Homo sapiens: one gene and its partners. The protein of the gene in region 3 purifies or fractionates together with the protein of the main gene of each other region. This does not show direct contact. Each region holds a gene or a part of one and is shown on either strand. Other genes may lie near its edges.

What was found.
Region 1: the proteins of NUDT16 (region 3) and COL20A1 purify together in Homo sapiens (affinity purification with mass spectrometry; one large-scale study listed by BioGRID and IntAct). This does not show direct contact.
Region 2: the proteins of NUDT16 (region 3) and ACSF2 purify together in Homo sapiens (affinity purification with mass spectrometry; one large-scale study listed by BioGRID and IntAct). This does not show direct contact.
Region 4: the proteins of NUDT16 (region 3) and CRAT purify together in Homo sapiens (affinity purification with mass spectrometry; one large-scale study listed by BioGRID and IntAct). This does not show direct contact.

Annotation. Positions count from the first base shown.
Region 1 is NC_000020.11:63,329,176-63,337,282, reverse strand, and holds the end of COL20A1 (collagen alpha-1(XX) chain precursor), read right to left. Parts: exon of another isoform or gene 8,042-8,107; intron 7,699-8,041; coding exon 7,625-7,698; coding exon of another isoform or gene 7,622-7,624; intron 6,564-7,621; coding exon of another isoform or gene 6,185-6,563; 3' UTR 2,477-6,184; downstream 1-2,476. UniProt on the Homo sapiens protein: Probable collagen protein.
Region 2 is NC_000017.11:50,459,423-50,466,908, reverse strand, and holds part of ACSF2 (medium-chain acyl-CoA ligase ACSF2, mitochondrial isoform 2 precursor), read right to left. Parts: intron 6,233-7,486; coding exon 6,037-6,232; intron 5,668-6,036; coding exon 5,539-5,667; intron 5,277-5,538; coding exon 5,223-5,276; intron 4,726-5,222; coding exon 4,607-4,725; intron 4,490-4,606; coding exon 4,324-4,489; intron 3,754-4,323; coding exon 3,658-3,753; intron 3,515-3,657; coding exon 3,357-3,514; intron 3,092-3,356; coding exon 3,000-3,091; intron 2,692-2,999; coding exon 2,615-2,691; intron 2,414-2,614; exon of another isoform or gene 2,384-2,413; coding exon of another isoform or gene 2,310-2,383; exon of another isoform or gene 1,612-2,309; coding exon of another isoform or gene 1,470-1,611; intron 1,203-1,469; coding exon of another isoform or gene 1,039-1,202; intron 1-1,038. Other genes in the region: CHAD (chondroadherin precursor), read left to right, coding at 1,039-1,202, 1,470-1,611. UniProt on the Homo sapiens protein: Acyl-CoA synthases catalyze the initial reaction in fatty acid metabolism, by forming a thioester with CoA. Has some preference toward medium-chain substrates. Plays a role in adipocyte differentiation.
Region 3 is NC_000003.12:131,385,342-131,393,316, reverse strand, and holds the end of NUDT16 (U8 snoRNA-decapping enzyme), read right to left. Parts: 3' UTR 4,487-7,975; downstream 1-4,486. UniProt on the Homo sapiens protein: RNA-binding and decapping enzyme that catalyzes the cleavage of the cap structure of snoRNAs and mRNAs in a metal-dependent manner. Part of the U8 snoRNP complex that is required for the accumulation of mature 5.8S and 28S rRNA.
Region 4 is NC_000009.12:129,100,308-129,107,793, reverse strand, and holds part of CRAT (carnitine O-acetyltransferase), read left to right. Parts: intron 1-3,487; coding exon 3,488-3,606; intron 3,607-4,727; coding exon 4,728-4,781; intron 4,782-5,228; coding exon 5,229-5,394; intron 5,395-5,736; coding exon 5,737-5,911; intron 5,912-7,104; coding exon 7,105-7,283; intron 7,284-7,486. UniProt on the Homo sapiens protein: Catalyzes the reversible transfer of acyl groups from carnitine to coenzyme A (CoA) and regulates the acyl-CoA/CoA ratio. Also plays a crucial role in the transport of fatty acids for beta-oxidation.

The DNA of each region.
Region 1 (8,107 bases), on a different chromosome or scaffold from region 3:
GGTACATTTAAAAATTTATTCCATTTGACGTTCTAGGCCCTTTTAATCTGAGATCTTAAATCTTTCTCTAATGCACAAATCTTCAGAAAACCCAGTTATTTCAACCTTTCCCCCTCCTCTTGCTGTTTCTTTCCTCGTAGAGCCCCCATGGTGTGGGTGCTAACACTTACATTTTCTGTTTCCTTTTTATCTTTTCCCAAAGCCTCCCGGGAGACGTCTCAGACCTGATCTTACAGCTCCGCTTTTAACATTTCTCTTTTTATGTTTTATACACATCATATTCCTAGTTGGTTTTCCTTTATACCTATAATTCTGGCGTCATGTTACCGATATCCCTCCTTGCCTCTTTAAGAGATTACAATTTTAAAAAATTAATAGATCAAAGAGAACAAACATGAATTCTTCTCTGCCTGGTACAGATTCTCCGGTTTGTCTCTCCCAATGCTTTTGATCTCAGATACCCCACCTTCCCTTGTGAATACGTCCCCTCAACATGGATAACAGCGCTGTGCATGCACAAATGTGTGAGTACGTGTGTGTATGGGTGTGTGTTTGCAAATGCATGCCTCGTGTGTGTGTGTACGGATTTGGGGAGGAGACAGTCCATTGTCATGTAATGGTTTCTTGTGGGCTACTGTCACACACGCGTGCATGCACACGCACACACGTGCACAGTGCACGCAGACACGCACACAAACGTGCACGCACACGCACGCACACACGTGCATGCAGACACGCACACACGCAGATACGTGCATGCACACACACGCACACACATGCATGCAGACACGCACACACATGCACGCAGACACACGCACACACGTGCACACACAGGGTGGCCTGAGTCGTCCCCAGGGTTTCTCCGTTTCTGTGTTCAGATCCTGGATTTGTCGGGCTCCCTCCCCAGTCCTGGCGTCTCACCAGGCAGGAGCCTCTGTTAGTGGCCATCTTGTTTCCAGGAGTCTGTGGGGACTCTTCTGGAAATGCGGATGTCTGAACGCCCATTTCACCTGGGCCTGCAGATCTGTTGGCGTAAAATGGGTCAGAGGGCTCTGGTTTTCAGCCTTGTCTTCATCCATGGTTTTGTCCTCTCTGCCCCAGCACTGTGGTGGCCCTCTCGTTTCTCTGGCCAGGTGCACTTCACTGAGCCCTCCGGGACGTGGGGGCCACCTTCCCCACCCCGTGGCTGGCCCAGGGCTGGCCCCACTCTCCCTTTCCCCTCTTGCCTCAGGAAGGAGCCAGAAAAGGTTCTACTCTTGCAGCTCAGCTTGGCCGTGAGACCGACGTCTGGCCACAGGGATGTAGCTGACAGTGGCAAGGACACCTTTGGAATGTGCCCTTCAAGGTTCCGAGCCTGCCCTTCTCCCTCCTCTTCTTCCTGTTGTTGGAATGTGACCCGATTCCGGGCCAGCCTTTCTCCTCCCTCCTCTTCTTCCTGTTGTTGGAATATGACCCAACAGTGGAAACAAGGGCAGTGTCCTGTGTGGAGGATGCAGAGCCAGGTGAGGGAAAGAGGCCTCCCCGTGCCTCTGAGAATGTCACTTCCACACTGCGAGAGCCACTCTTATCCTGTTATTATTGTTACTTGAAGCCACATCGAGCCCTACACGGCGCGTTTAGTCACTCTGTGGGAGGTGGTAACGTGTTCAGCTAAAACGTCTGTTTTCTGGACAAGGAGAGTTGCAGTCTTTGTCCTTAGGTACAAGCAGAAGTCTCCAAGTGGGACTCCTGTTAACACTGGTGCTCTTCACCCAGAGGACTCCCGCCCCTTCCGCCAAGTGAGGTGTAGCTCCTGGAGCAGCAGCAGTCATCTTGTGATGAAGGGCAGCTACATGCCAAGGACAGCCAAACAGGCTGGGATCCGCCATCTTGTGGTGAAGGGCTGGGATCCGCCATCTTGTGGTGAAGGGCTGGGATCCGCCATCTTGTGGTGAAGGGCTGGGATCCGCCATCTTGTGGTGAAGGGTGGGGATCCGCCATCTTGTGATGAAGGGCTGGGATCCGCCATCTTGTGATGAAGGGTGGGGATCCGCTATCTTGTGATGAAGGGCTGGGATCTGCCACCTTCTGATGAAGGGCAGCTACATGCCAAGGATGGCCAAACAGCCTGGGGTCTGCCATCTTGTGATAAAGGGCTGAGATCCGCCATCCTGTGATGAAGGGCAGCTACATGCCAAGGACGGCCAAACAGGCTGGGATCTGCCATCTTGTGATGAAGGGCTGGGATCTGCCATCTTGTGATGAAGGGCTGGGATCCGCCATCTTGTGATGAAGGGCAGGGATCCGCTATCTTGTGATGAAGGGCTGGGATCTGCCATCTTCTGATGAAGGGCAGCTACATGCCAAGGACGGCCAAACAGCCCAGGATTCCCTCAATGTCCATTCCTGCCCACAGGACTTTACGTGTGATGGCAAAAACTGATTTAGGGAAGCCAATGGCAATCAGGTTTTAATTAAATACAGGCAAACACAGTACTAATGAATGCACACTGCTTCAGGGTTTATTTTCTACTATTTAAAATTGTTTGAGTTGGAATCTTCCCTAAAAACTGTGTTTAAGGGCCGGTGAGGTGACTCACACCTGTAATCCCACCACTTTGGGAGGCCAAGGAGGGTGGATCGTTTGAGCTCAGAAGTTCAAGACCAGCCTGGGTAACACGGCAACACCCTGTCTCTATTTAAAAAAATACAAAAAACATTAGCCAAGCGTGGTGGCGCACGCCTGTGGTTCCTGCTACTCAGAAGACCGGAGCAGGAGGACCACTTGAGCCCAGGGTGGCACAGAGGTTGCATTGAGCCGAGATCATGCCACTGTACTCCAGCCTGGGTGACAGAGCAAGACCTTGTCTCAAAAAACAAGAAAACAAAACAAAGCACTGTATTTACAGCTATAAATTGCCCTCTAGGTACCACTGCAGCTGCAGCACAGAGATTCTGACGTGGCGCTGCATCCATCATTATTTGGTTACAAGTATCTTCACGTTTCCTTTTTTCTCTTTAACCCATGAATTACTGTGGAGTCATGGGTGTGTCTTTTAGCTTCTAGAGGCATTCTTTAGCTTGTTATCATTGGTTGTTTTTCCAGTTTCATCAGTGAGTGAGTGAGTTCTGAACAGCAGGATCCTTTGGAATGTAAGGTTTCTTATGGCCCAGTTCATGGTTAGTGTGTGGATATTCCACACATGAGAGGAGAGTGTTTCTCCACTGGGCAAGGAGTTCTGTACTTACCATCAGATCACGATGGGGGGCTGTATTATGACATCGTCTCTGTGCTGGGGCTCAAGTCCAAATGTTCCACGCCCTTCCCCAAGAAATGCACTGAATCTACAGACACTGGCTTCCCCCACCATCTGCCCTGGTGTGAGTCCACGTGTCCCAGCTCTCCCGTCCCCACTGCCCTGGTCCTTGGTAGATGAAGAGGCTGGCAGCCATACGTCGCCCCCCAGGTGCAGATGGCATCGGGGCAGGCTCCTCTACAGCTGGGGTTGGGTTTCCTCAGCTTCCATTTCTGACACTGCCTGGGCCAGAGCCATCCTCTGTGGGTGGACACGCCTCACCTGCTGGTCCTGCGGGCACAGCACCCCCTGCCTCCTGCTACACATTCCTCCCAGGCCTGCACGCACCCGCCTTCCTGGGCGCTGTGCCCACCCCTCCCTCTGAGCTCATCACTGAGCCGTTCTTCCCAGCTCCCCACCTTGCAGGTGGCTCTCAGAGGGGCTGTGAAGGCCTGGAGCTTCCAAGGTCGCTCTTGGGGCCTCAGGCAGAGCCACTCGGCACTGCCTGCAGACCTAGGGAGGGCAGGTCAGATACGCATGGCTGCACGCCCCTTACAGTCCACACAGCCACACCACCCTGTGACCCCAGCGTGAGCCCCGTGATTCCATGACCTTCCCACAACCCCCATGACCCCAGCGGCCTGAGCTGAGCGTCAGATCAGCCTTGCGTCACACCACCTCGGTGGCTGGCCTGAGCTGAACATCCCCGGCTGCATGGGCACGGGGGTGACTGGGGGCAGCACCTAAGGCCATGAGCTCTGGGCCAAGACCAAGCACCTCCCTGCATTTCCTCCCGGAGCCCCCACACTGCGTAGGGCTGAAGCTGTGCTGCCTCTGGGGGTGGAGAGGGGACCGAGGCCCACTACAGAGGGGCCTCTGGAGGGGAGAGCTGTGGCCGTAAAGGCAGGAGGGGAGGCATTGCCAGAAACCCAGCGCTCTGGCCAGGAGCGTGAGCCCCGGCTCAGTCCCTGGGGGCTCCTAAAAGGACCCAGAGGGATGCGGTGGAGTCGGGGCTGATGGGAGACGTGCAGGTCGGCTGGGTCTCGGGGAGGCTGCCTTCCTGCAAACAGGAGCCAGGCCGGTTTGGTGCATCCGGAGGCTGCTCTCAGCTCCCTTGCCATCCTCACCTTTGATTCGTACTCAGCTCCACTGCACAGGCTGGGGCGGGTGGGGCCTCAGGGACCAGTCCCTAAGCTGCCTGGGCACCAGCTGGCCGCTGCCTTTGCTGTGCCATTTTAATTGGCCTCCAGCATAAAGTCAGTTTCCCGAAGACAGCCGGACTCCCCTTTTGAGGCTGAGCATCACTGGTGTCACACCAGCGTGGCGGGGGTAGGGCAGCTGAGGGGGTGGTGGGGATTAGAGCCACCCTGGTTCCCCCCGGCCAGGCTGCCTCCTCCTGGCTGCCAATGTGGTCTCAGCCACCCAGTGCCCAGTCCCTTCATCAAATTGGAGAGCCCCAGGAGAGGGGCTCCTTTGGAAGGCTCTGGATGCCCTGTGGGCTCTGGGCTTGATTCTAGCCCCACTCCTGCCTCATGACAAAGCCTGCTCACTCCACTGCTCAAAGAGCCTTCTCAGTTCAGCTGGGGACATGTAATTCCCCGCCCTGGAGAAACCAAGTGAGAGCAACCAAGCTGTTTTGCTGGTCACACAATCTGAAGCAACTCAGCTCCCCAACAGAAGCCAAGTGACCTAGGTGTCCTCCCTGCAGGACGGAGGGGCTGGCTTGGGCTGCTGCTCTCAACAACTGTGTCTGATACCTGCACTGAAGGCTATAACTCTGCCCCAGATGCTGCTTTACCTGCACCTACTTTGGCCACATGCTCTCCTTGTCCCTCAGTGCAAAATCTGTCTCGATGCCACGTGACTTCTTCGACGTCTGATTTGTCCACAGACTTTGGGAATTTTCAGTGGTCTGTTTCTGTTCTCATGCTGCAGTGGGAGCTGGCATTTGGGGCTGCTTCCTGGCCTCAGTCAGGGCTGTGGCTCCTGTGGGTGCAGGCGCTCTCTCCCATCCTGCTGACCCTGCCTATGACTCTCTATTTGGTCTCCAGGTCTGGTCAGTTCCTGGAACAGTTGAATCATAGATGAAGTGTTTGCCCTGAAGCTGTTTTGCGCTCACCTCTTTGGGGTATGCTTTGGTGCACGCAATGCTGCACTGGTGATCTTGGTGGGTTTTCCTTCTGTCAATATCAAGGGTCTCTCTTTGTTCCTTTTTAATACTTTTCATTCTCTCCTCAATGATATGGCTTCCCTCTTCATTTCTGGCACCTTTCTTGCTTAGCTGCCTAAGTGGTAACAGTGGACTAGTTACTGAATATTTGTTTGGAAAGGAAGTAGAAGTTCCCACATCACCCCCACGGGCCACAAGGCCCAGAAGCCCAGGTGTGTGTTCTGAGCTTGCCCCCATGCTGTTTGGGCCACAGTGGGGATAAGGCAGGAAGTCCAGGCTCACACAGCGTCTGTGATGGTTGGGAGAGACCTGGGCAGAGGTGCTGAGGAGCGCACAGGCCAGAAGCCTGCTGAGGGATGACCTTGCTCTGAGACCCTAAGGACCAGGGGCTGATGGTGCCAAGTCTCAAAGCAATGTCCCTGCACAAGGAACTCAGCACAGGGCTGGGTGGGTGAGGGGTGGCCATTCACACACAGGATCTGAACTCCTTCTTGGGCTGGGGACAGAGGGGACGATGAGGCAGGCAGGGACCTGCCTGTGCCCAGATGTGAAGGTGCTGGGGCCGGGGTGGGAGTGCTGTTCTGAGGGAGGAGCCATCGTGCAGGTGACTGGTGGGCCAGCAGTGGAACCATCTGTTGCCTGCGTGAGGCGCAGAGAGAGGCGGGCCCACAGGGCCCTGGCCAGGCTTAGATGAGGCCCAGAGAAAGGGGCGGGGCATGTTGTTGAGCCTGTTTTAGAGCTACTGAGACGGCCACAGGGCACTGCTGCCCTCCTGAACCCGATTCGCCATCAGCCCAGCCCCTCCCCTTCCCCACTGCGGCTGAAGCTGCAGGGCCTCAAGGTGGGGTGCACAGAGCCAGGGTGGGGGACACTCTCCCAGGAAATGACTCCCGCCTCGCTTGGCTGGGTGAGCACTCAGGGGTTTATCTGAACTTGGAAATGCTACAGAGCCAAGAGTATGGGGTGGGCCTTGGCCGAGGCCGCTGCTTCCCTCTCCTTCCACCTGCAGGCTCTTCCTGAGCTTTTCTCCTGGCTTCTCCAGGATGTGGTCGCTCTCGGTGTCCAGACAAACCCAGGGAGGAAGGCTCAGCGTTCCTCGGGGCAGTGCAGAAAATGTCCTGGCAGGAGAGAAGGGAGGACAGATGTGAGAGGCCGAAGACAGCTGGACACCGGCTCAGGGCCAGCGCCTGGCACTGTGGCCACCCTGAGAGCCCGCATCCTGGGTCTCTGCACACTGCGTCCAGCAGGGCCGTGAGTGGGCAGAGCCATGGGCAGGGCCGTAAGTGGGCAGGATTGCGGGCAGGGCCGTGGGTGGGGTCATTCTCTGACGGGTCTGTGGAGGAGAAGCAAGGCTGCTTGTTCTTAGCCCTGGGCTCTGACCTGATTCTTGGGCATCTCAGGCAGCTGCCCTCTTGCCCCAGCCTTACCAGGAGCCCCTGGGTCTCCTGCCTGTGCTCCTCAGCCCTCCTAGCCCCTGCCGAGTCCCCTAGCTCAAAGGTGCCGGCCCCTCATGGGCCCCAGGTCACACACCCTGCGCCACGCTCTGGCCCCTGAAGCTACTTGAGGCCGGAGTTGTGCTGTACCCACCACCTGCTCCTGGGACCCTGTCCCCACACCTGCTGCTGGGACCAGCCCCTCAGCTAAGTTTGCACACAGGGTCCGCCTGCCCAGCGCTTCCTGAGGAAGGCAGAGGTTACCTGGTGCTACTATGGCCCCCACCCTGCCTCTCTCATCGACATACCCAGGGCCTCACAGGCCCCTCCTGGGACTCCTGTGAGCTTTCCCACACTTGGACCAGGTGCCCACTGAGCAAACACCTGAGCTCCACTCTCCCTGCTGCGCTAACCCTGGTCAGGGCCTCCTCCGCCCCAGCACGCAACTCTGCATCCCACGAGGTGCAGCAGACTCCCAGCACGCCAATCCATCTCCGGAACCCCACGTCCTGTGACCCCACGCCCTGTGACCCCACACCCTGTGACCCCACATTCCTGTTGCCCCTACGGGGTCCATAGTTGACCCTACTTTCCCCAGGGCCACCTCGCCTGCCTCTGCTGGGCCTTGTGCTCCCAGCACCCCACCCTGGACAGCATGAGGCCCCACCCGTTGGCCCCTCAGGAGCTCCTCCTTCCTGGATGCCCTCAGCCTTGGCAGATAGATGCAGGCAGCAGGGGCTCACCTGTCACTCCCAGAGGCCCTGGGTGCTAGCCCCCTGCTGCCCAGGGCTGCCCATCTGACCAACAGCTCCAGGCTCCCCTGCGAGGAAAGGGAGGGCATGTGAGGACGGAGCAATGCAGTGGCTTGGGGCCCTGTTCTGACGGGGACAGAGGGTGTCAGGGCCCCTCCCTGGGCACAGGCAGCAGGTCTGGTCCTTAGATGGGAGTCTGAGATCTAGGGGCAGCAGCGTGCCAGGTCCCCGTGCTCCACACAGGCGCCTCCTGGGCTCCATGACAGTTCTGGGGGGGCATGGCCAGGTGGGAAGGCGTCAGGTGGGGGCCCTGTGATAGTGCCTGTCACCCTCATCTAGACAGGTGGGTGCAGAGGGGGCCGTTTATTCTGAGTAGTGATGTACCCCTCATCTGCCAGGCTGCAACCAGGCCACTGTGGGCAGCTTCCAAGCCGGGGGCAGGGGTTCCCACAGCCCACGGGGCTCCCCCCAGGTTGC
Region 2 (7,486 bases), on a different chromosome or scaffold from region 3:
TCTCCCCAGCTGAAGTTGGAGTCCCCTGTGGCCCACCAGTGCCAGAGTGGTCTTTCAGTGGGCAGCAGAGCAGCGAATTAGGGGCTGGTTTGGGGCAGGGGAGGCCAGACAGGAATTGTGGCGCCTGGGCAAAGGTGTGGGCACCAATAGAACATTTCCTCTGGAGCCGTCCAACCTGGCCAAAGGCTCCACCAAGGTGGCTTCACAAATAGCGTCTGGCTGGCAGTGGGGGAGCAGTGAGGACAGAGCTGAGGGAAGTCCTGGGACCCTGGGACTGTGGGGAGCCTGGGCCCACTGCCCACTCCACCAAGCACAGACCAAGTTCACCGTGTACCAGTTTGGATTGCTGGGGCCAAACTCTGGCAGCCCCACAGTCCCAGTGTTTGTGCAGGGATTGTGGTGCCAGGGGAAGAGGAGCTGGGTGTGGTCCTGTGGCTACTGTTTACCCACTGCTGTGACCCAGGGCAAAGGACTGCGCTTTTTCCGTTTCCCCATTTGCATATTGAAAATAACACCACCTGGCTGGGCGTGGTGGCTCACGCCTGTAATCCCAGCACTTTGGGAGGCTGAGGCGGGTAGATCACGAGGTCAGGAGATCGAGACCATCCTGGCTAACATGGTGAAACTGCGTCTCTACTAAAAAAATACAAAAAAATTAGCCGGGCATGGTGGCGGGCACTTGTAGTCCCAGCTACTCAGGAGGCTGAGGCCGGAGAATGGCGTGAACCCGGGAGGCGGAGCTTGCAGTGAGCTGAGATCGTGCCACTGTGCTCCAGCCTGGGCAACACAGTGAGACTCCATCTCAAAAAAAAAAAAAGGAAAAAAAAAAAAAAAAGAAAATAACACCATCTGTCTCAAAGGGGGTTGTGTAGATTGGATTATCTGAGATCACTTGGTCATACTGCTTTGAAAACTGGGAAACTCCTCAAAGTGCTATGGCTCAGGTTCAGGGAAGGATCCTGCCCCTCTGGCACTCGGGTGCTTACTCATTCACTCATGACCACCTTGCTCCCACCTTGCTCCCACCTTGCTCCCCAGTTCTCAGATGGTGCCTTCCTGGGTGTAACCACGCTGAAACACGTCCATTTGGAGAACAACCGCTTGAACCAGCTACCCTCCAACTTCCCCTTCGACAGCCTGGAGACCCTCGCCCTTACCAATAACCCCTGGAAGTGTACCTGCCAGCTCCGGGGCCTTCGGCGGTAAGAACACTTCCATGTCACTCCCAGAGCCCACCCTCATGTGATAGAGGCACATTAGCCCTGCACTAAGACATGTTGGACATGCATCCTAGATCTGCTACCTAATAAGCATGGGACCCTGGGAGCCTCAGTTTCCCCATTTGTAAAATGAAGATGACAGCTTCAGACTATCCTGTGGCCAAGTCAATCCTGGCCCCATAGTTCACTGCCCTTCCCCCCAGCACTCCCACCTTCTTCCCCAGCCCCAGCAAGTTTCTGTCTCTCCAGGTGGCTGGAAGCCAAGGCCTCCCGCCCAGATGCCACCTGTGCCTCACCTGCCAAGTTCAAGGGCCAGCACATCCGTGACACGGACGCCTTCCGCAGCTGCAAGTTCCCCACCAAGAGGTCCAAGAAAGCTGGCCGCCATTAAACAGGTGGGGGCCAGGTAAACAGGTCCCCTATGTCCCTCTTTGGTGATTCCAGCAAGTGAGCTGGTATCTTCCAGGATACCCCCTGGCCCTGGAGGGTCAGGCAGACCCTCCATTTTTACAGAGAGAGGAGGGGACGACTGGGTCCCCTGTTGAAGGGAGGAAAAGGTCCTGCCCAGGACTTCCACCATTTTCTTCAAGCATCATCTGTGTTGTTGGAGTACTGACATCGATCTTTGCCTCTTTGCAGGTTCTGACCCAGCCAGTCCTGGTGACTGGCCTCTGCCTTCCACCGGAGAGACTACTGACCTTCTCACCTCCACCCATACCTTCTCCCCACAGCCTCTGCTGATGCACAGAGCTGCCTACACCTAGACACGTCCTGGCAGGGGGCCTCGGGCACTCCACTACCAACCCAGCTCCACCCAGCAGTGTCCTGGGGAGAAGGAAGGCTGAGCCTCTCCCCAGCCTTCATGCCTTCCCCACCCTCCAGCTCCTCTTGGAGAAGCTGTTGCTGAGACCCCCCCCCCAAGTCAATCAGAACCACAACAGGTTGGTCATCAGGATGGCCACCCTCCCAGGATCATCCTTCCTCTGTTCCTCTTTCCCTGCCACGTGGAAACAATCATCAGATCCTTGCCCCACCCCTTGCTTCCAGAAAGGGTTTTAAAGCCCATGCCCCAACTCTGCCAGCCCCCACCTGCCAGGACGTTCTAGCAGGACATCGGTGCTTTGCTGTCCATCTTCCCATGCTGCAATTTCTTCCTGAGATTTCTATAAATATAAATGTATGTATGTATTATATTTACTCCCCTGCCACCTATCTCCTTCACCCACCAGGTGCTGATGAGGTCAGACTATCTTTTCTCACATCTGCTTTCTGGAAGGAGGGCTGGCTGAGAGGGTCTCCTTTGAACATCTGGCCTGGACTCATCCCCATGTCTGTCCATCTGCTGTCATCCCAGGCCTGGCCTGCCCACAGCCCGGGCCGCAGTCACCACTCACCACCAGGTCCTTCATATTTATCTTGTTGATGATGGCTCGGATCAACTCTGGAGGTGCAGGGGACCCAGCAATGACACCTGAATCAGAGAGAGGGCTGACACAGCTCCCCAATTCTCCAGGCCCAGTGGAGTCCTTTCACCTACAGCTCATTCAGGGGAGGAACATTCCCTTTTCTCCTCTGACCCCGAGCCTTTCCTACACCTGGCAGCTGGCCCTGGGCTGGTGTCCAGGGACACTGGGGATCTCCCTCCCTCCCACCCACATTTTTACAGCGTCCTTCTTGCCCCCTATATAAAAGACTGGGAGCATAGCTAACTCACCCGGGCCATTCCTGTGGGGGAAGCAGCCCCCTCCCCAAGCCTGGCTGCCCTTGGCCCCACCCCACCTCCACACATGGTCGAGATGTCATAACTGGAGAAGTCTGGCTGGTTCAGAATGTCCACGAACATCGTGGGGGTACCATACAGGAAGGTGCCTCTGTATAGGAGGAGGTCTCGAAATTAGGCTTGGAAGTGGAAGGGAACTCCCTGTTCTCACCCACCCCGCCATGAAACTGCAGCAAAGGGAATAGGCAGGAGAAGCTCCTGAGGCAGGAACTGGTCCTCTCCTGGGGGTCCTCCACTGTCCCCATCCTCAGTCTCCTGGCTGGAGGGAGGAGGCAGCTTGGAAAGGTGTCAGGGCCCAGGAGTGAGGAAGAAGAGGGTTTTATCAGCCCACAAGTAGCCTGTCCACCAGTGCCCACCTCTCTCTGCTGATGGCCTCCAGTGCCTTCTTGCCATTGAAGATGGGAGAGGCCAGGATGAGGGTGGCACCGTACATCAGACACATCATTGTGCCTGCCACGGAACCCAGGCAATGGTACAGGGGGTTGGGCAGGATCATCCGCAACTGCTCTGGTGTCTGGTGATGGAGACAGGAGGCTGGGTCTGTCTTGGAGCCAGACGCCAGTTCCTCTCTAGCTGGCAAGGGGAGCCCAGCCAGCCCCCCACCCCTGCCTGAGCCACCCCTCCTGCAGCCTTGCCCTGGGCCTAGTGCCGCCTCACCTTCTCATGCAGTTTCAGGCGCTCTCCTAAAATGTTGGAGTTGTTGACAATGTTGTAGTGGGAGAGGGTGGCCCCCTTGGGGCTGCCTGTTGTCCCCTGACAAGGCAAACAGGGCATGGCTTGGCCTCCTTCTCATCTCCTTCCCACCCTGGGCCACTGCCTTGAAGAGCACGGGACCGGGAATCAGGAGACAGGGATTGTTGCCCCAGATCCATCTGTTCAGTATATTTGCAAAAGGTCTACCACGATACCAGGTGTCAGGGTCCAGCAATGCAGAAGATAAGGTCTCCGTTCTCATGCCACTTACATGGCCCAGAGAACTCTGCCACCCACAAGCTGGCTTGGGCAAATTCTCTCTTCTGCGTCTCTGATTCCTCATCAGCTAAATGAGGGGCAGCCTGTAGCAGTTCCAACCTGTGTTGGTTCAGTGAATCTGCCACTGCACCGGGAACAAGAGGGCTGGAGTGGAGAGGGCGGGGGGCTAGGGGAGGAAATGTGACAAGGACACCAGGTGCTGATATTTTCCAGGGCAGAGAGGACAGCTGAAGGCCAGTCTCAGTAAAGAAGGCATGCTCTCCTCTGCTGTCTCCCCATCCCCGCGGAAGTGTCACAGGGACAGGGGGCATGTGTCCATCTGGGCTTGGGGCCTGGAGACCTCTGCCCTACCGAGGTGAACTGGATGTTGATGGGGTCATGGCAGGACAGGAACTGCTGGTTGTATTGGAGCTGGTCCAGATGCTGCCGTGTGCTGCCAGCCGCCACCACTTCATCCAGGAGCAGGGTCCCCGGCAAAGGGGCATCCACCGAGATGACTGTGGTCAGATCTGGGAGCCTGGGGTTGGGGACGATGGTGAGAGACAGGGGCTGAGGGAGGGGGCAGGGTGGGTAGGAAGTGAAGGAATCAGGGATGCTGAATGATGCACCACCCACTAACCTGGGACACACCCACCTCTGACTCTTCAAGGCCCCTGGCTGGGCATTCTCCACTTCTGGACAGATCTGCTTCAGGACGTTGTAGTATTGCTGGGTCTTGAATTGCTTGGGGAACACAAGGGCCTTGCAGCCCACCTGTGGAAGGGGAGTCCCCCACCTCCAGTCAGCGGGGAGCCCCAGACTAGAGCTCTGGGGGAGTCCTCACTAATCAGCTGCTCTCATACAGATGCACCCGCTTCTGACACACACACCTCCAGCACACTCACAGGCACCACACTCCAAGACAAATGCACACATGTACCAGCCCCGAGACACACACACCACACCCTGAGACACATATGCATCACATATGAGGATGGACACACGCACACACACACACACACACACACACCTCTGCCCTGACACACACATGCCCCCGTCCCTGCACACTCACGCCAGGTTTGTGTCTGACCAACCACGCTCTCCTTGGAGTTGGGGCCACCTTCCAATCACACATGGCCTAAGGAAGGACACTCTGCGTATCACCCGCCTATGCATGCCCTAGCTCACACCGTCAGACTCTGACAAGCAGAGTCTGTGCAGCCCCCTGTGCCAGGCCCCAGCCGGGCCCCTCCCCGACAAATGAGCTGTACCTTCTTGAGGACATACTCCAGTTCCATAGCCTGGTAGGCTGGGTTCACAGACACCTGGTGGAAGCGGCGAGGGCATATCAGTATTCTGGGCAGACCCTGTCCCTCCTGCTGCCCCTCCGCCCCCAGGAGGCATAGAGGCAGCACTCTACAGCCCCCTAACTCCCAGAGACCTCCTTGGTGGGCCTCAGGAGAAAGCACTACCTGGTTTGAAACCAACAAGGCACTGGTTTGATCCTGGGGCTGAGGGCCTGAGGGGCTCCCCTTCAGTGATGTTCCCCCATGCACACCAAGCTGTGCCAAGCAAGCCCCTCCTCACCAGAATGATGCCCGCCTGGGCGGTGGCCAACTGCATGAGCACCCATGCATAGGAGTTAGGTCCCCACATGCCCAGCCGGTCACCTTTGCAGAGGCCAATGCTCAGGAGGCCAGAAGCAGCTTTGTCCACCTAGTGTAAAAGATGGGGCGCAAGGGGTGAAAGGGGGCAAGCAGGAAGGGGCCCAAGACTCCCACCCTCAGCCCTTAGCCCGGAGTTCTCATCACAGTCACTGGGGACAAAGGGACAGGCAGATTCCCAGCCTCAGTGGGTCTGCCCTGGGGCCTGCATAGTTAACAGGTGCCCCAGGAGCTGCTGATACAGGAGGCATTGGACCCCTTGTGCGTCAGTCCTGTCTCCTTCTCCTGCCATCCCTCGGGGTTCTCTGGCAGCCCTAGCACATTGCCCCATAGCCAGGTGCCCACGCTCCTGGTTCTGCCCAGCTAGGGCAGCTTGGGAGCTAGTACTTGCCCACTTTGAGGTTTCCAGGTCAGGACCCACCTCCTCCTTGAGTTGGGCAAAGGTCAACCTGACGTCTTCATGGAGGACGACCAAGGCCTCTCGTTCTGGGACCCTCTGTGCTGTGGTCTCCAGGCACTGGCCCACAGTCTTGCTGTTAAGATGCTTTTTGGTGCACCCCTGAACGTAGCTGAGGCCTCCGATGGGCGTGGAGACCATGCGATCCACCTCTCTGGAACTGTAGGGAGAGGAGCTATGGGTTTGACTGTCCCAGATCAGTCTCCCTGGAACCAAGGGCATGGCACACCCAGCCAAGCCAGGGGGTAGGCTGCTGACAATGTGTTAGAGACCACTAGGTTTCCTCCAGATCTTCTTGTAAGCCTAAAATCCCCCAGACCCTTTTCCCAACCTCAAGCCTAATCCCAAGGCAGCAGGACAGGGACAAGGTTACACCAAGCTGGAGCAAAGGGCCCTCCTTCGCCTTCCCGGGAAAGGTGAGATGCCATAGTGAAGCCTGGGAGAGCCTGCCTGTGCAGACAGACAGATCTTACAAAGCAGGACCATGCCTTCACCCCTAGCCCCTGCCTCCTGGAGAATAAACAGGTCACTGGGGTCCTTCCTGAGGAACCAGGGAAGCGTGCCTGGACCCTGGGCTTGAATCCAAGGTCTTAGGATTTTAGACTCCTTGGTGGGCCAGTTTTTCTCCTGAGGGCCTGAAAGCCAAAGACAGAATAGGAAAGGGATAAAGGAGAGGGCAGATGGAGGCCCTAAGAGAGGCAGCTGGGCGGCCCCTGTTATTCCACAGGCCTGTAGGTGTTCAGTGCCAGGTGCTAAAGATCCTGGGCACCTGCAGATGAAGAAGAAAGCCCCTATATGCCAAATGGCACCTGGGCTCCAGCTCCCACTCTCAGATGATGTCACAAGGCAGGCAGGCAGTTTCTGTCTCCAGGGAATTAAGAAGCTGGCTGAAAGCAGCCAGTTAAGGCAAAGGGGCCAGATGTCAGATAAGCAAGGGGCACCAAGAGCCTGAGAGTACTGAGCTGGGGATGTTGAGTGGAGGAAGCAGCCAGCTCGGGACCTGGCTCGGGTTCTAGTCTGGGGCCGGGACTCTTCACCTCTCACATGTGGCTACCTATCCATTTCAGTGCACAGGTGGAAACAGGTCTGGGTAGAGGCCTGGGCAGTCACGGGAGTAGTAACCTACTCCCCAGTTTTCTCCATCGGCCTTTCAGGAACTACCCATCTCCTCCCAGCCCTGCCAGGTAAGAGACAACCCCTAAGTAAGGGCACGTCAAGCTGGAGGAGAACCTGCACTTCCATTACTGCTCCACTTAACTTTCCCCACCTTTTATTAACTGTGGCACCTGAGCCAGGCATGGTGGCTCACACCTGTAAAGTCTTGCCAGCACTTTGGGAGGCTGCAGCAGGAGGATCGCTTGAGCCCAGGAGTTCGAGATCAGCCTGGGCAATATAGGGAAACCCTGTCTCTATG
Region 3 (7,975 bases):
GCCATTAAGAGCCATGATTTGCAACGTTTCTTAAGAGTTCCCCACATTCGTCTCTTGGATTTCTTCCCAAGCTGCTGACATTCCTTCTAAAACTTTTAAAGCCGTATGCAGCAAATATCAACTATGTCAAGAACAAAACCTGGCATCAATTGTAAGACTCATTCCTATTTCAGAGATTTTAAAGATGTGTGTCTTAGAATACCTGAAACAACGGTAAGCCAGACCTGAGGTTTCTTAGAACATTATTACGGCTTTAAAACTTAGAAGAAAAAAAGTCCAGAATCCAGAACTTTCCCTCTGACTTTTTACATGGCACCAACCTGTGTCCATCTGCAGAGGTTTCTAACGTGATTTGGCAGCCTCACATCTGTCAGGCCCATGTGAGGTGGGAGCAGGATGACAGCTGCAAGTCAAGCACCGGAGCAAGACCTGCTGCCAAGCACTCTGATTTTAATCCTGTCAGTTAGTGCTTGGCTCCATCCGAAATGTATTCAGGGCTGTGACAGGGTTCTCAGACCCAGTGCCTCCTTTTTACAACAAGGATTTCGGCCTGACAGGGTGGCTCACGCCTGTAATCCCAGCACTTTGGGAGGCCGAGGTGGGTGGGTCACATGGTGGAGAGATTGAGACCATCCTGGCCAACATGGTGAGACCCGTCTCTACTAAAAATACAAAAATTAGCCGGGCGTGGTTGTGGGTGCCTGTAATACCAGCTACTTGGGAGGCTGAGGCAGGAGAATCGCTTGAACCCAGGAGGCGGAGGTTGCAGTGAGCTGAGATTGCACCACTGCACTCCAGCCTGGTGACAAAGTGAGACTCTGTCTCAAAATAAATAAATAATAAAAAATACAATAAGGATTTGGGGACACTGTAGCAGATTGTATCTTCCAAAGATTGCCATAGAATATCTCCTGTCCCACACCATCTTCCAGAACTGTGCTGCTCCTTTATCAAGATTTGGAGCCCAGTCCTCCCACTTCTTGAATTTGTGAGTTTGTGTCTAGTTTGTTACCAATGGAATGTGGGAAAAGTAAAGTTGTGTGACTTATAAGGCTGAGTCAGAAAAGGCCATGCGACTTCCACCTTGCTTGATGGAACATTCATGCTGGAGCCCAGACCTACCATGTAAGCAGTCTCACTGCCATAAGGTGGCCATGCTGTGAGGAAGCCCAAACAGACAACATGGAGAGGCCCTGAGATGATCTGAAGAGAGAGAGACTACTGCTCTCAGTTGAGAGACTACTCAAGCTCCCAGCTACTCGAGCTGTCACCTCCATCTGACTGCAACCATGAATTGCTGTTATTCTAACCCACTAAATTTGGGGATGGTTTGTTATATGACATTGGTAACAGGAAGACTCCCTTTAAGGAGGGGTGTCACTCCCGTGGAAGACAACTGCCTTAGGGACATTAAATCCTCCATGTGACCACCAAGTACACCAACACCAAGGAAAGGCTTCAGGTTCAGAGGCCAGCATTTCTCAGCCACTTACACTCACTGGGGTTCGATTACTCTCTCTCCCTCACCTCTTATCCTCTTCATCACCTCTAAGTCCTGGTATAGAACATTTACATAACTTACCGTCTCTTGGATAAATAAGGAATAACTTCAGTTAGTTCTACAAACTGAAAAAAACTCAAACAGATGATAGTTATTTCCCTATTCGTTATACCCCAGCTTTCTCGTTTGGGTCTCAGCCCCAGCATCAGGGTCTTCAGGGAAGGTAAAATAGTGAAAAGCTACTTCCGGCCCCACTTCACTCCATCCAAGTGTCCAGGGCTGCCAGGCCTCAATGCATAGGCAGAGCTACGTGTTGTGTGGGGCTTGAATCTTTTACAACTCTGGGAACACTTTTTAAGAAAAAGGAAATCAAAATTAGATATGAAAGGAAAGTGATTTAGAATATAAATTCACAACAAATTACAACTTGAAAAAACTAAAAAATCCTACAATCATGAAAAAATCCAGAAAAATAACATAATTAATTACCTAATATGCTCTTATAATATTTTTCTACCTTTTTTTAGTTGCATACTATTTGATTAGTCTTCATATGACAATTTTATGCTATCATTCTACACATGGTGAATTGGAAGTTTATTCAGTTTTCCTCTAGGATGGTAATCAAACTGTGTTTTTAATTACTGATAGTTTAAACAGTTTTTTTTGGTTTCACAACTTGTTATTGGTAACATAATGTAAAGTTTTAAAATTTTTCTCAAATGTTAAAAAAAACTCAAGTTTTTTGTGTTTTTGTTTGTTTTTGTATATGAGCTGTAAGATTAGGAAGAATTTTCCACAGACTAGCTTCTGGCAATATTAATTTCTAGCCTTGTTTCCTTTTTATTATCCTCATAATTCCAGGTTGGATGCCATAGGGCATGCTTCTTTTTTTTTTTTTTTTTTAATTATACTTTAAGTTTTAGGGTACATGTGCACATTGTGCAGGTTAGTTACATATGTATACATGTGCCATGCTGGTGCGCTGCACCCACTAACTCGTCATCTAGCATTAGGTATATCTCCCAATGCTATCCCTCCCCCCTCCCCGCACCCCACCACAGTCCCCAGAGTGTGATATTCCCCTTCCTGTGTCATGCTTCTAACATAACATGGTCTCTGGCCCTGCACCTTTGTGTGAGTTCACCTGGCTTTGTTCTCCCTGCTGTGTGGTGGACATCAGGTGTTTGTGCTATATACTGCCTCCTCCCATACAGATCTTCTTCTCCCCCAGATCTTGATCTGGTGAGACTGGCAATCACAACTCTCCACCCTGCTGGCCACAGAGAGAGCAGAGGGCCCAGTCACACTGCATATTCCAGTCAGCACAGGGGATCCATGCGAGCACACGGCCCAGAGTCAATCAATCAGCCTCTAATCTGATTTTGATCACTTGGGGCTGGGGAAGAGATCTTCCTTCAACTCCACATATTACCCCAAAATGCTTATTGGGATAGGTCCCCACTTACCCATGAGCCCTTTTTTTTTTGTTTTTTTAGATGTAGTAGGGCTGGTTTCTATACACCACAAGAAAAAAATAGTTCCTTTTTATTATTTTTAACTAGTCATTTTATGACCATAGAATACATACATATTGTGCAAGATTCGAACAATATAGAAAGGCATAACAGGAATATTTCAGAGTGTCTGTCCCTGTAATTTATTTCTAGTTTTACTACATGTGGTCCAGAACTTGGTATGTGCTTTATTATTTCTTAGAGGGTGATAGAAGACCAGAGGATTTACTGAGGTTATATATATATATATATACACACTGTAAGTTCAGAGGTTCATGTGCAGAATGTGCAGGTTTGTTACATAGGTATACATGTGCCATGGTGGTTTGCTGCACCCATCAACCTGTCATCTACATTAGGTAGTCCCCCTAATGCTATCCCTCCCCTAGCCCCCCAACCCCCATCAGGCCCCAGTGTGTGATGTTCCCCTGAGGTTTTGTTGTTGTTTGTTTTGAGATAGAGCCTCTCCCTGTCACCCAGGCTAGGGTGCAGTAGCACGATATCGGATCACTGTAACCTTCGCCTCCCAGGTTCAAGCAATTCTCCTGCCTCAGCCTCCTGAGTAGCTGAGATTACAGGTATGCGCCACTATACCCGGCTAGTTTTTTTTTTTTTTTTTTTTTTTTTTTTGTATTTTTAGTAAAGATGGGGTTTCACCATGGTGGCCAGGCTGGTCTCGAACTACTGACCTCAGGTGATCCACATGCCTCGGTGGCATGAGCCATTGTGCTCGGCCTACTGAGGTTTTATAAGGTCCAATAAACGACTAATTTGCTAAATGTTTCCTGACCCTTTAAAATTACATTCACTGCTTGAAGTTACAGAGCTCAATATTTAAGCAAAGTACATTCATTATATTTTTGACTTCTGTGCTGAGTCTGTTTCGAGTATGAAGACAATAGTATCCTTACATCATAAGATTGTTCTAAGGACTCAATATGTTAATACATGAAAAGAGCTTAGAATAGTGCCTGCCACACAGTAGGCATCCCTAAAATGTTAATTGTCATCAGCATCTTCCTTTTTATTCTTTTTCAATACTACATAGGCATACTTACACCTGACATTTTAACTGTCAAACATTGACTGAAAGTATCTTAGCACTCTCTTAATTAATACTATTTTCTTAATTTCTAATAGACTTTGCTGTATATAATCTGAAATTGTTGGTGATTATGTGATTATTGTGGATAATCTCTTGATCAATTAAAGAATTCTAGTGCCTTTGATATTAATATTATGATGATCTCTTACTTTTTTACTGTAATTCCCTGGCATTCTTTCTCATCTTTTCATATTCAGCCAGAATCATATTGTTTTGGTATGTACTTTGAAATAGTAAAATTTCACGAGTCTTACCGTTTTCAGAAATCAAATCCTGCTAATTTCCTCAGCAGAATCACATTTTTATGCTTCTTTCTCCCTCCTCACTACTCACTTTTACTAAAATAAGTGAGAACCTGGGAACTAGCATAAAATCAAATGATTTATTGTTATTTATAAAATATTTATTATGCTCAATATACATATTTCCTTTCAGATGTTAACATATTGTTTGATAGCCATCATTAACACAGTACTTAGCACTAAAATTGTACATAATAGGAGCCACTGCCTCACAGCCAGCCCACAAATTTCCTACAGTTTTCCTGTCGATCAGTTATTTCCTTTGATTCATTCTGTACATTCCTGAAAAACATCTGTATGGTTTTCCAGTAAAACTGCATGAGTAATATCCATGCTTTTGCACTTAAACGTCAATTTAGATAGACATGCAATTTGTGCTGTAGTAAGTGACCTAATTCTCCTACCTTACAAATTTCCTTCACACAAAAAACAGTCTGATGCTTTTTAGTTTTTATCTTTTTGTTCCCCTGAACATAGTGAGTACTGCCCACTTCTGGTGTAGTATCTTGAGTTTAGGGAAGTTTTTGTCCTGTTTCCTCTAAAATGTTGTTCCTGTTACATGTGTTCTGTTAGTATTTTCCTTCTATCACTTAACAAGACTCTGGATTCTCATTGTCTGATCTCTGTATCTATGATATTCTCTTTGGCCATTTTCCTTGTTTTGCACTTTTTCTCTGGGTTCTAGGGGATTTTCTTAAGCCTGGTCTCCATATCAGAGGTAGATTTTCCTGGGGCTGATGATGCTCTTGCTGTTCCTAGGGTAATGTTAAGTTCTCTAACAGAGAGATCCCTCTCCTTAAATTCTTTCTTGGTGTTGCCAGCTGTTCCTGCATGTCTTATCTTTTCTCTCACCTCATTTCAGAGTCCCTGCTCTCCTTAAATGCCCTGAGTAAATACCACTTCTACTCCTTGGAATGAATCTTCCAGAGCATGGTCTTTATCACGTGCATCTGGTGCTCACATCCTCTTCTATTTAACAGACCTATGTTACTTGCTGTTTACTTAAATCAATTAGGGGCAATTCTGCTCTTTTGGTTTCAAACAATTGGGGTCATTCACCTGTTCTCCCTTCCTTGTTTACCTGGCCTTTCCCTACATCCACAACCTAGGACTAGTGCTGGATAATAGGATGTTGTAAACCCATCAGTTCTGTCTTCTAGAGACCTGAAGAAGGTGGGAGGACTGGGACTGTAGGTGAGGGTCTTGGCTGAGTCCAGGAGCTTTCTATACTTGTTGAAAACCCCATCGAGGGGTTGTTATCCTGAGTGGAAAGAGGGAATCCTCTGCCCCCGCATCACCTGGGAATGCCTGTGGTGGGTACATACCCATGGTGAGGGCACAGGCAGCAGCTCCAATCTGCATCTGTGCATCAGGATGAGCAGCACTTTGGTGAAAATGCTAGACACACAAACTCCCTCCATCTGGGAGCTGTTGGTGAGGAGCTTCCTTTTCTTGTTTTATGTCCTTCCCAAAGTCCCTTTGCTATTCTTGCTTTTCGAGTGTAAGAAGGGTTCCTTTGCAAGATTTCATCTCTGCCCAGCTGGCCCCTGTAGACTACCTCTACCCCTAAAGGGAACATAGCCCCTGTAGAGTACCTCTACCCCTAAAGGGAGCCTCATTTGCCCAAGCCAGAAGGGAAGTGGGGAGAAGGCACATGGTTTCTCTTTGTGGGGGCCCTAAGTCCATGGGGGTTTCCCATTTTTCCTTTTTCCTCTGCCCTGCCCATACTCCTCTTCCTCAGAATTGAACATGTTGTAAATAAAATCCCCTACCTGGCTCTTCTATACTTCTCTGATAAGTGCCAAGGTCCAGCATCTTTTACTTTGGTTCAAATTCTGATGCCATCTAATGATTTGTTTACAGACTAAACTTTTTCCTCTAGTTTTGACTCTCTGACACCCGTTTGTGATTCTATTGGAGATAAAGGTTTCAAAAACATTTCTGTGCAACAAACTGAAACTCATATAGGAAACATGCCTTCCCTCTTCTCTTCCCCTCCCCTTGTCTGTTTCACTGGCCGGCTCCCAGCTCTAAGGGTTCCGGTAACTAGGAAAGGAGGAAGTCACTGTTGCCTCAAATGTTCCAGCCCACAGCAGCAGCTTTGCCATATGCCAAGTGACCACAGAGGACTTTGTCTCAGGACAGGGTGGGGCTCAAAGTGTTTTTATTCTGCACCAGCAGAAAAGTGCAATGCTGAGAAGTGGGAACATCTTGCTGATTATGCTGAGAAAGGCAGAAACACGTGTTTGTGGAGAGGCGGCTGGGCCACTCACCTTGCAAGAAACAAAATGTGCTGTGAAGCAGGAAAGTACATAGCATCCTGTACTTTCATACCGCTCAATGCATCTCTGCAAGCTTATCCCAAGTGCTGCCTCATCTGATCTCACCACAGGAATCACAGCAACATTTCAGATAAGGAAAAGGAGGTCAAGGGCTTGGGTCAAAGTCACCACAGCAGTTAGTGGGGGTCAAAGATTGCAATGAGCATTTCTCTTCTTCCTGCCCCAGATGATTGGACTTAACAAGGCCAAGGAAAGCTTAAGTGGGTCATCATCCCTGGCTTTCCTTAAACATCAGCAGGGTGGGAATGGCTAACAGGAGGAGAAACACAGAGTGTGAACTTGTATCACCCCCCACCTGCCTACCCAGAGACTGTCTATGTGAGTGAGATGAACACAAACCCCAGTACAGTGAAACACTTTTATGAAGGCTGCCTGAGAGGTAATCTACTGACTTGGAGAGTATGTTCAAGGGATCATATAGGAAAGTCATGGGCTCTTCCCCACGCAACCATCTCCAGAGACCTAAATAAAAAGCAAATTTAATACGAATAAGTGGACAGATGAGCTGCCCAGTAGGCAGGCACTGAGAGACTGATCAGTGGGATACTCAAGCAGAGTGAGACAGAGCGGAACCTTCCAAGTGGTATTAGTGTTGACCTGGATTACATCCCATAATGAGTTCTGGATCCAGAATTACCTGAGGGAAGGGGTCTGTTAGCAGTGCCATAAAGGGTCAGTGGCTCTGATCTCCCAGGCGTCAGGGTCCCTTGCAGAGATGACTGAGAACCAAGTGCACAAAGCACAGATGAAGCTGCTACAGGCTGGAACCCCAGGGGCCACTGGAATGTCCATTTCCTGCAGCCTGCCTATACTGAGGTTTAATCTAGATAACGTTTGACAAAAGGGTCAGGGTAAGATTAGGAGATGATAATTAACCTCTAGGAGTCTACCTCATTGTACAGCTGCTCCCCCACTGGGTACTCCCATTCTTCTAAGACCAAGGGCTGCCAGTGGGACCCACACTGCTCTGCATCAAGCTTCCAGACCACTGCCCACCCTCCCTTCCTCAAAAGGCTCTCACCTGGGAGATGCTATCCTGTCATGCCTGCTTTCCCCTCTGGCAGGTGCCACTGGCCTTGTGGCCACTCCTCTTGTTCACCAAGGATGCTGACTCCTAGGTCACACCATTCTCCTCAACATCTGTCGGTTTCTTGCTTCAGCACCCATGTGGAGGCTCACCCTGCCCTCCAGCCTCGCCAACCCTAGAT
Region 4 (7,486 bases), on a different chromosome or scaffold from region 3:
TGTGACCTGCTGCTGGCTGCACATGCACAGTTCTCCAGTGCCCACTGCTCTGGCACGGCCGTTCGTTTGCTGCCCAGAGTTTCGTGAGCACATACTCTGTGTCTGGCACTTGGCAGGGTGCTGGGTGATCAAGAAGGACACAGTCACCAGCTCCTTGGAGCTAACATTCAAGTAGGGAGGAGAGAAAGGTAATGAACAGGATACAGGTTGTGGACAAGGTTTCATGTTCCAGGACAGAGGCAGGAGTGGGGTGCACGGCAGGTACAACCAGATAGAAGATGCCCTTGTGCTTGGTGGGACAGCCTCAGGCAGGGGATATGTGTCACTCAGTGACCGATCGCCCAGGTTCTGTATCTGATCTATGACACAGGTGTACCCAGTTTGGCAAATATGTCTACACCAATGTTTGGTGTGCTTTTCTATTTGCATCTCATACTTCAATACACAGATTTAAAAAGTGGCAGCTGGATGCAGTGACTCACACCTATAATCCCAGCACTTTGGGAGTCCAAGGCGGGCAGATCACAAGGTCAGGAGTTCGGGACCAGCCTGGCCAACATGATGAAACCCTGTCTCTACTAAAAATACAAAAATTAGCCAGGCGTAGTGGCACGCACCTGTAATCCCAGATACTGGGGAGGCTGAGGCAGGAGAATTGCTTGAACCTGGCAGGTGGAGGTTGCAGTGAGCCAAGATTGTGCCACTGCACTCCAGCCTGGGCGACAGAGCAAGACTCTGTCTTGGGAAAAAAAAAAGGTGACCCAGCTGCTGGGAGGGAGGCAGAGTGGAAGCCAGAGGCGAGGGGGAGGGGTGACATCACCCCCAAGGAGCTGTGGCAGCCTGGGTCTGACACCGGATGGGAGAGAGGGAGAGTCGTTAGGTCCAGGACTGTTTTGGAGGCAGTGCCAGTGTCACTTGCCAATGAGGTGGGGGCACGGGTGGAATTTGCCAAGTCGGGGTTGCCTGAGAGAGAAGCTACCTGTGGGAGAGCCAGAGCGGGTCCGGCCCTGGGAAATGCTGTGTTATAGGGGGTGCCATGGGGAGGGGAGGTAGAGCTCTAGCCCTGGGGCTTGGCGGAGGCTGTGGGGCTGCACACAGGAGGTGGGAGTTGTCAACATTTGCTGAGACGCGTCAGGTCAGGACTTTGGACTCCAGAACCAAGATGCTTCCCCCGAAAGGTCCTTAGAGCGTCTGGGGGCTGGTGGTTTTCCGACTTCATTTAGCCTGGGACTCCTTCAAACAGAAGCTCCTGGTTAAAGGGGTGGGGGCACCCCTCCTTCCACTCACGGGGCCACCGAAGGGTCTCCGCCACCACCTGGCAGATTCTCGCTGGGGGAGTACCCATACCTGCGGGGTCTCCTCTGGTCTCCCAAGCTTTGGCCAGAGGCTCTGGGATCCCTAGTGGAGTACAGGCCCCTGGCTGTTTCCCCAAGGGAAGGAAGCTCCTGTCTGCCCTTCACTGATCTACAGATGAGGAAAACTAAGGCCCAGAGAGGTGGCCCAAAAGCCCAGAGCCACACAGCAGCTCTCAAGGAAGCCCTCGGCCACACAGGAAGGTCTGACTGACTCAGGGACCCAGTTCTTAGGGGCTACCAGTCACCTGTTGTACAACTTGGGGACAAGTTGCCTCCCCCTCACCCCTTGCCAAGTTGCCTCCCCCTCACCCCTTGCCAAAGGCTAGTGGCCCAGTGCTGCAGGGGAGTGCGTGTGATGAAGAGGCGCATCCTGCTGCTGTTCACCACGGGTTGAGGGGGCGCAGGTGGGCCCAGGTCTCTGGGGGTGGAAGGCCAGAGAAAGCTGTACTGGCTGTGTGCAGGAAGGGTGGGTGTTGCAGTCAGCATAGAGGACACAGGGTGACAGTCACCTGGGAGTGTGCGCAGCGCCAGACATGGAGCCTTTAATACCACATCCCTGGCTGGTGCCCAGAGACCCCCCACCCCCCAGAGAGAGGACAGACCGTCAGGGCAGAGAGTAAGGATGTGTCACCCACATCTTGTCACTAGCATAAGGATTCATCCTTGCAGGGAGCATCCCCTCAAGATTGCCCTGACCTTGAGATCAAAGTGGGTATCTACTCCCCGAGGCCACAGGTTCCTCAGGCTGCTCTGATACCCCAGTCTCCTGCCTCCTTGGACAGTTCTCTGCTGGGGATGGTCAAAAACTCACTTATTGGGCCAGACGCGGTGGCTCACGCCTGGAATCCCAGCACTTTGGGAAGCTGAGGCAGGTGGATCATTTGAGGTCAGGAGTTCAAGACCAGCCTGGCCAACATGGTGAAAACCTGTCTGCAGCAAAAAATACAAAAATGAGCCAGGCATGGTGGTGCGCACCTATAGTCCCAGCTACTCAAGAGGCTGAGGCAAGAGAATCGCTTGAATGCAGGAGGTGGAGGTTGCAGTGAGCTGAGATAGCACCGTGGCACTTTAGCCTGGGTGACAGTGAGACCCTGTCTCAAAAAAAAAGTCACTCATTGGACTTTGTTTTTGTAGACCCTTCCCTTTTTTCCTTTCTATCTATTCAGGCATACATTTTAATTTAACATATGACAGTCATTGACAGAGAATGTGTAAGATGAGAATTTGTTCACCTTGCCGGGCGCGGTGGCTCACGCCTGTAATCCCAGCACTTTGGGAGGCCGAGGCGGGAGGATCACGAGGTCAGGAGATCGAGACCATCCTGGCTAACACGGTGAAACCCCGTCTCTACTAAAACTACAAAAAAAAAAATTAGCCGGGCACAGTGGCGGGCGCCTGTAGTCCCAGCTACTCAGGAGGCTGAGGCAGGAGAATGGCGTGAACCCAGGAGGTGGAGCTTGCAGTGAGCCGAGATCATGCCACTGCACTCCAGCGTGGGGGACAGAGCGAGACTCCGTCTCAAAAAAAAAAAAAAAGACCGGGCACAGTGGCTCATGCCTGTAATCCCAGCACTTTGGGAGGCCAAGGCGGGCGGATCATGAGGTCAGGAAATCGAGACCATCCTGGCTAACACGGTGAAACCCCGTCTCTACTAAAAATACAAAAAAATAGCCAGGTGTGGTGGCTGGCGCCTGTAGTCCCACTTACTCAGGAGGCTGAGGCAGGAGAATGGCGTGAACCCAGGAGGCGGAGCTTGCAGTGAGCCGAGATTGCGCCACTGCACTCCAGCCTGCATGACACAGCGAGACCCTGTCTCAAAAAAAAAAAAAAGAATTCGTTCACCTTGCTGCCCCTCCCCACACCCCGGGTTTCCTCCTGATCTTTCTTTCACATCCTTTCTTAGCAGCAGCATCGGATTGATCTGGCTAATACTGATCACTCGGGCTAAAGGGAAGAGGCTGGTGGGTTTAAGTTGTGGGGCAGGGAGGGTGGGTTCTGGATCTAGGCATTTACTTTGAGAATCTCCATAGCCAGGTAGAGGGCATGGGGGCCAGCCAGGTCCCCTAGCCCTGGGGAACAGGGGGCACCAGGGCCCATGCACCCCTCCTGACAGGCTCTGGCACTTTTCCCAGCTGTCTGAGTGGTGGCTCAAGACCGCCTACCTCCAGTACCGCCAGCCTGTGGTCATCTACTCGAGCCCAGGCGTGATGCTACCCAAGCAGGACTTCGTGGACCTGCAGGGTCAGCTCCGGTGAGTGGCTGGGGTTTGGGGGCCAGGAGGCAGCCGGGCCCCTCGAGTTCACTTCGCCCAGCCGCTTGGAGGGGCCCCGACCCTGTTTATCTTTCTGCCCCACAAGCAGCCTTATGAAGTAGGGAGCATCCTCCCTATTTTACAAATGGGGAAATTGAGGCTCGGAGCAGGGAAGGGAGCTGCCCAAGACCCCATTCAGGAAGCAGGGTCTCTCCAGCTCTAAAGCCTCATGGCTGTTAACCACCACATCTTCGCAGAGGCCCCATCCTCCTCCATACCTGAGGCTTCTCCCCGACCCCAGTTTTAGCACTTCACCTCTCCTTTCCACTCTTCTCAGCTAGCCACAGGGGTGACCTCTGTACACAGTCCTCTTTTCCACATTCAGCCAGGTCACCTGCCCCAGCCCCTATTCCAGTCCTACCAGAGATAAAAATACCAGTGACAAGGATCTCCTGCCCAAGGACCAGCCACTGGCTGCCACCACCTGCTTCTCTTAAAGGGACCAGGGTACCCTGGGAAGGGCCGGGGTTCAGGCCCAGGAACTCCAGCCACTGGTCCCCATGGTGGGATCCAGGGGCGGCCCCAAGCATTGAGGGTGGTTGCCATGGGCCAGACAGCCCTGGGAGGAAGGCGGCCTGGGGGACACAGAGGCCCAGAGTGGGGAAGGGACCTAGTGGAGGGAACACCGGAGCCACTGCTCTCCCATCACACCACCCCAGGGGCCCGGGGCCTCCAGAACCGATGCTTCAGAGCAGATGACACCCCCTCCAGATTCTAGGCTGAGGTTCAGGAGCTCAGGCCCTTTGTGGGTAGACCCAGCCCACTGACCCCTAACCAAGCCACACTCCAGCTGCAGGGGGCCAGCACCCAAGTCCTACTAGGCCCTTGGCCACCAGCACTTCCCCGAGCCCTCCCGACCATGCTCCCTCTAGAGGTTATGAAGAAGCACACACAGGCTGGCAAGCTGGGACTCGCAGGCCCCTCCCTTGCGCTCCCAGGCTTTCTGGAAGCGGTGAGAGAGGCTGGAAGACTAGACCTCCCGCTCCCCAAGCAGGTGTCCCTAGCCCGGGGCCTCCCTCAGGGTGTCCACGCAGCTTCTAATCTCTAATCAATCTTTCCAGATTTGCTGCCAAACTCATTGAGGGTGTGTTGGATTTCAAGGTCATGATTGACAAGTGAGCATCCCCACCCCTGCCCAGCCCCACACCTGCCCAGGCCTGCTTAATTACCACAGCCACCTCTGACCCCAGCCCTGGCCCGGCATGCCAGCTTGGGCCCTGGGCCCTGCTCCAGCTGCTGGAATCTCCTCTTGGTGGGTGACCCTGTCCCATCCCAACTAAAGAGGACCCCAGAGTTTTATTCGCTGCTTCATCTCCCCTGTGACAAACTGAAGCCCAGAGAGGGGAAAGGAGGGAGTTTCTAGATGACTTCTGAACAGGGCCCATCTGGGGCAGAAAGCGAGCCCCCTGCCCACAGCACAGCCCTGAGGTGTCCTGCTCATCTGGGAGTGGGAGCAGGGACACTGTGTGAGCCCCCAGCAGTACCTAGCAGGTCCCTGTCTACCCTGCCCTCCTCCCCATTCACTTGCCCAGTGGTGGCCTCACTGCCCCTCTACCCCATAGCGAGACCCTGCCCGTGGAGTACCTGGGGGGGAAGCCACTGTGCATGAACCAGTACTATCAGATCTTGTCCTCCTGCCGAGTGCCGGGCCCCAAGCAGGACACAGTCAGCAACTTCAGCAAGACCAAGAAGCCTCCCACGCACATCACCGTGGTACACAACTACCAGGTGGGTGGCCCCCACCCACACCTACAAGCCCCGGCCCTGCTGCAGGAGTACAGCCGGACGGCCGCAGTCGGCTTCCCCACTGGGGTTCCCCAGCACACGTGCCCACGTGCCCCAGGAATGGGCGCCCCTGGCTTCTCCATTGGGGGCCCAGGGAGGCCAGGAGGGGCCGTGGGCCTGCCCAGCCCAGAAGGGTGATCCAAGGACCTCCTCCCCCTCTCACCCTTGGCCTGACTCCATCCCCTCCAAGGCCAAGGCCAGGAGGAGGCAGGTGTGGGGAGGTGGCTGCTCTCAGCCTGAGGTCCCCACTCAGCTCCCTCCTCTTACCTGCCTGTGCCCCAACAGTTTTTTGAGCTGGATGTGTACCACAGTGACGGGACACCCCTCACTGCGGATCAGATCTTTGTGCAGCTGGAGAAGATCTGGAACTCATCCCTACAGACCAACAAGGAGCCTGTGGGCATCCTCACCTCCAACCACCGCAACTCCTGGGCCAAGGCATACAACACCCTCATCAAAGGTGCCTCTTGGGGGCCGTGCTGGGGCTGCACACCCAGGCCTCTTCCCCTGTTGGGGACCAGCCTCAACTCCACCTGTAGGGTACCCGAAGTCTGCTGGCAACAAAGGAATGAGAAGAGACAGGTTAAGAGTTCATGAAGGTGGGAGCCAGGGGCCAGTTGCAAAATGGAGGCTGCAAAAGGCGCAGAGTTCTGGTCTCCACACTATTGAGTGCAGTCACTTAGCTCTAAGAAGCACATGTTCAGGGCGAAACAGTGAAAGGGAGGCAGTGCCTCATAGGAGGCATAATCTATAGCAATAGCAGTTTAAATGAATCTCCTTTGTGCTCAAACAGCGTGTCTTTAACTTATCGGAGAGTAGCTGGTGGGAGCGGGCTTAACTAGGAGCCTGCACATCTGTCCACTTCCCAGTGTTTCAAAGGAGTGTCTTTCTCCTTGAACACAGTGTTTACAGATAGGAGAGCGGGTCTCGCTCTGAGCATGGGAACATGATGGCAATTAGTAGGCTTTCCTCCTCCGTGGCCTCTTCTGGCTTTCCACAACTTATTGTCCCCTATTTTTATGGCCAGTTTATACAGGCACCCCACAAGTCCTTTTCCCAACATTCCCCCGGCATGCTGGGCCCCGCACAGCCATGGGCAGACATGTTTCCCGCTGCATCCTCTCAACGTGGAGCAGGCAATGTGGGCCCCATGTCCTAGTTGAGGACACCTCATGGTTAGGGTAGTTTCTCTCAGCTAAATAGCAAGTTAGGATTAGAGTCCAAGTCCTCTGGCTGAGAAGCCCACCCGCCTCCACACCCCCTGTGCCCCCAAGTACCAGCAGTCCTCCAAAGCATGTCTTGCTCAGGGGCATTGACCCCAAAGTCAGACCACCTGTGTGGGTTCCCCGGCTGCCACACCAGCTCCCATGTGACCCCTGGGCTTCGGTTTCCTGTGTCTAAAGTGGGCCAGGTGTTGGGCCCTGCCTCGAGGAGTGCTGTGGGCCTGCAGGGTCCTGTTGAGTTCGAAGCTCTGAACCCACACCCTGCACTTGGTGAATGCCCTGGAGGGCCGGCGAGGTGGGGGGTCTCCTCATCCCAGAGAGGTACAAATGGGTCAGAAGAGCCCAGGGCAGGAGGCTGCGGAGGGGCTGGTCCATCTCTCCCACACCATGAGACCCCATTTTGCGTCTCCCCGCCCCATGCCACCTGCAGACAAGGTGAACCGGGATTCCGTGCGCTCCATCCAGAAGAGCATCTTCACCGTGTGCCTAGATGCAACCATGCCCAGGGTCTCAGAAGACGTGTACCGCAGCCACGTGGCAGGCCAGATGCTGCATGGGGGCGGCAGCAGGCTCAACAGCGGCAACCGCTGGTTCGACAAGACGCTGCAGGTGAGGCCCGGCAGGGCTTCGCCCACTCACACACACCTGAACAGGACCTCTGCAGCCTCGGGACTTCCTGCCCGTCCCCGGCCCTGCGTCCCCAGCCTCCTAGCTTGTAAAGCAGGCAGGAAGCCAGCAGGCTGGACGCTGCCGTAATTACCAGGCAGCCAGCCTGTCATCACCAGTCCTGCCTCTGGCCTGGAAACCGCTGT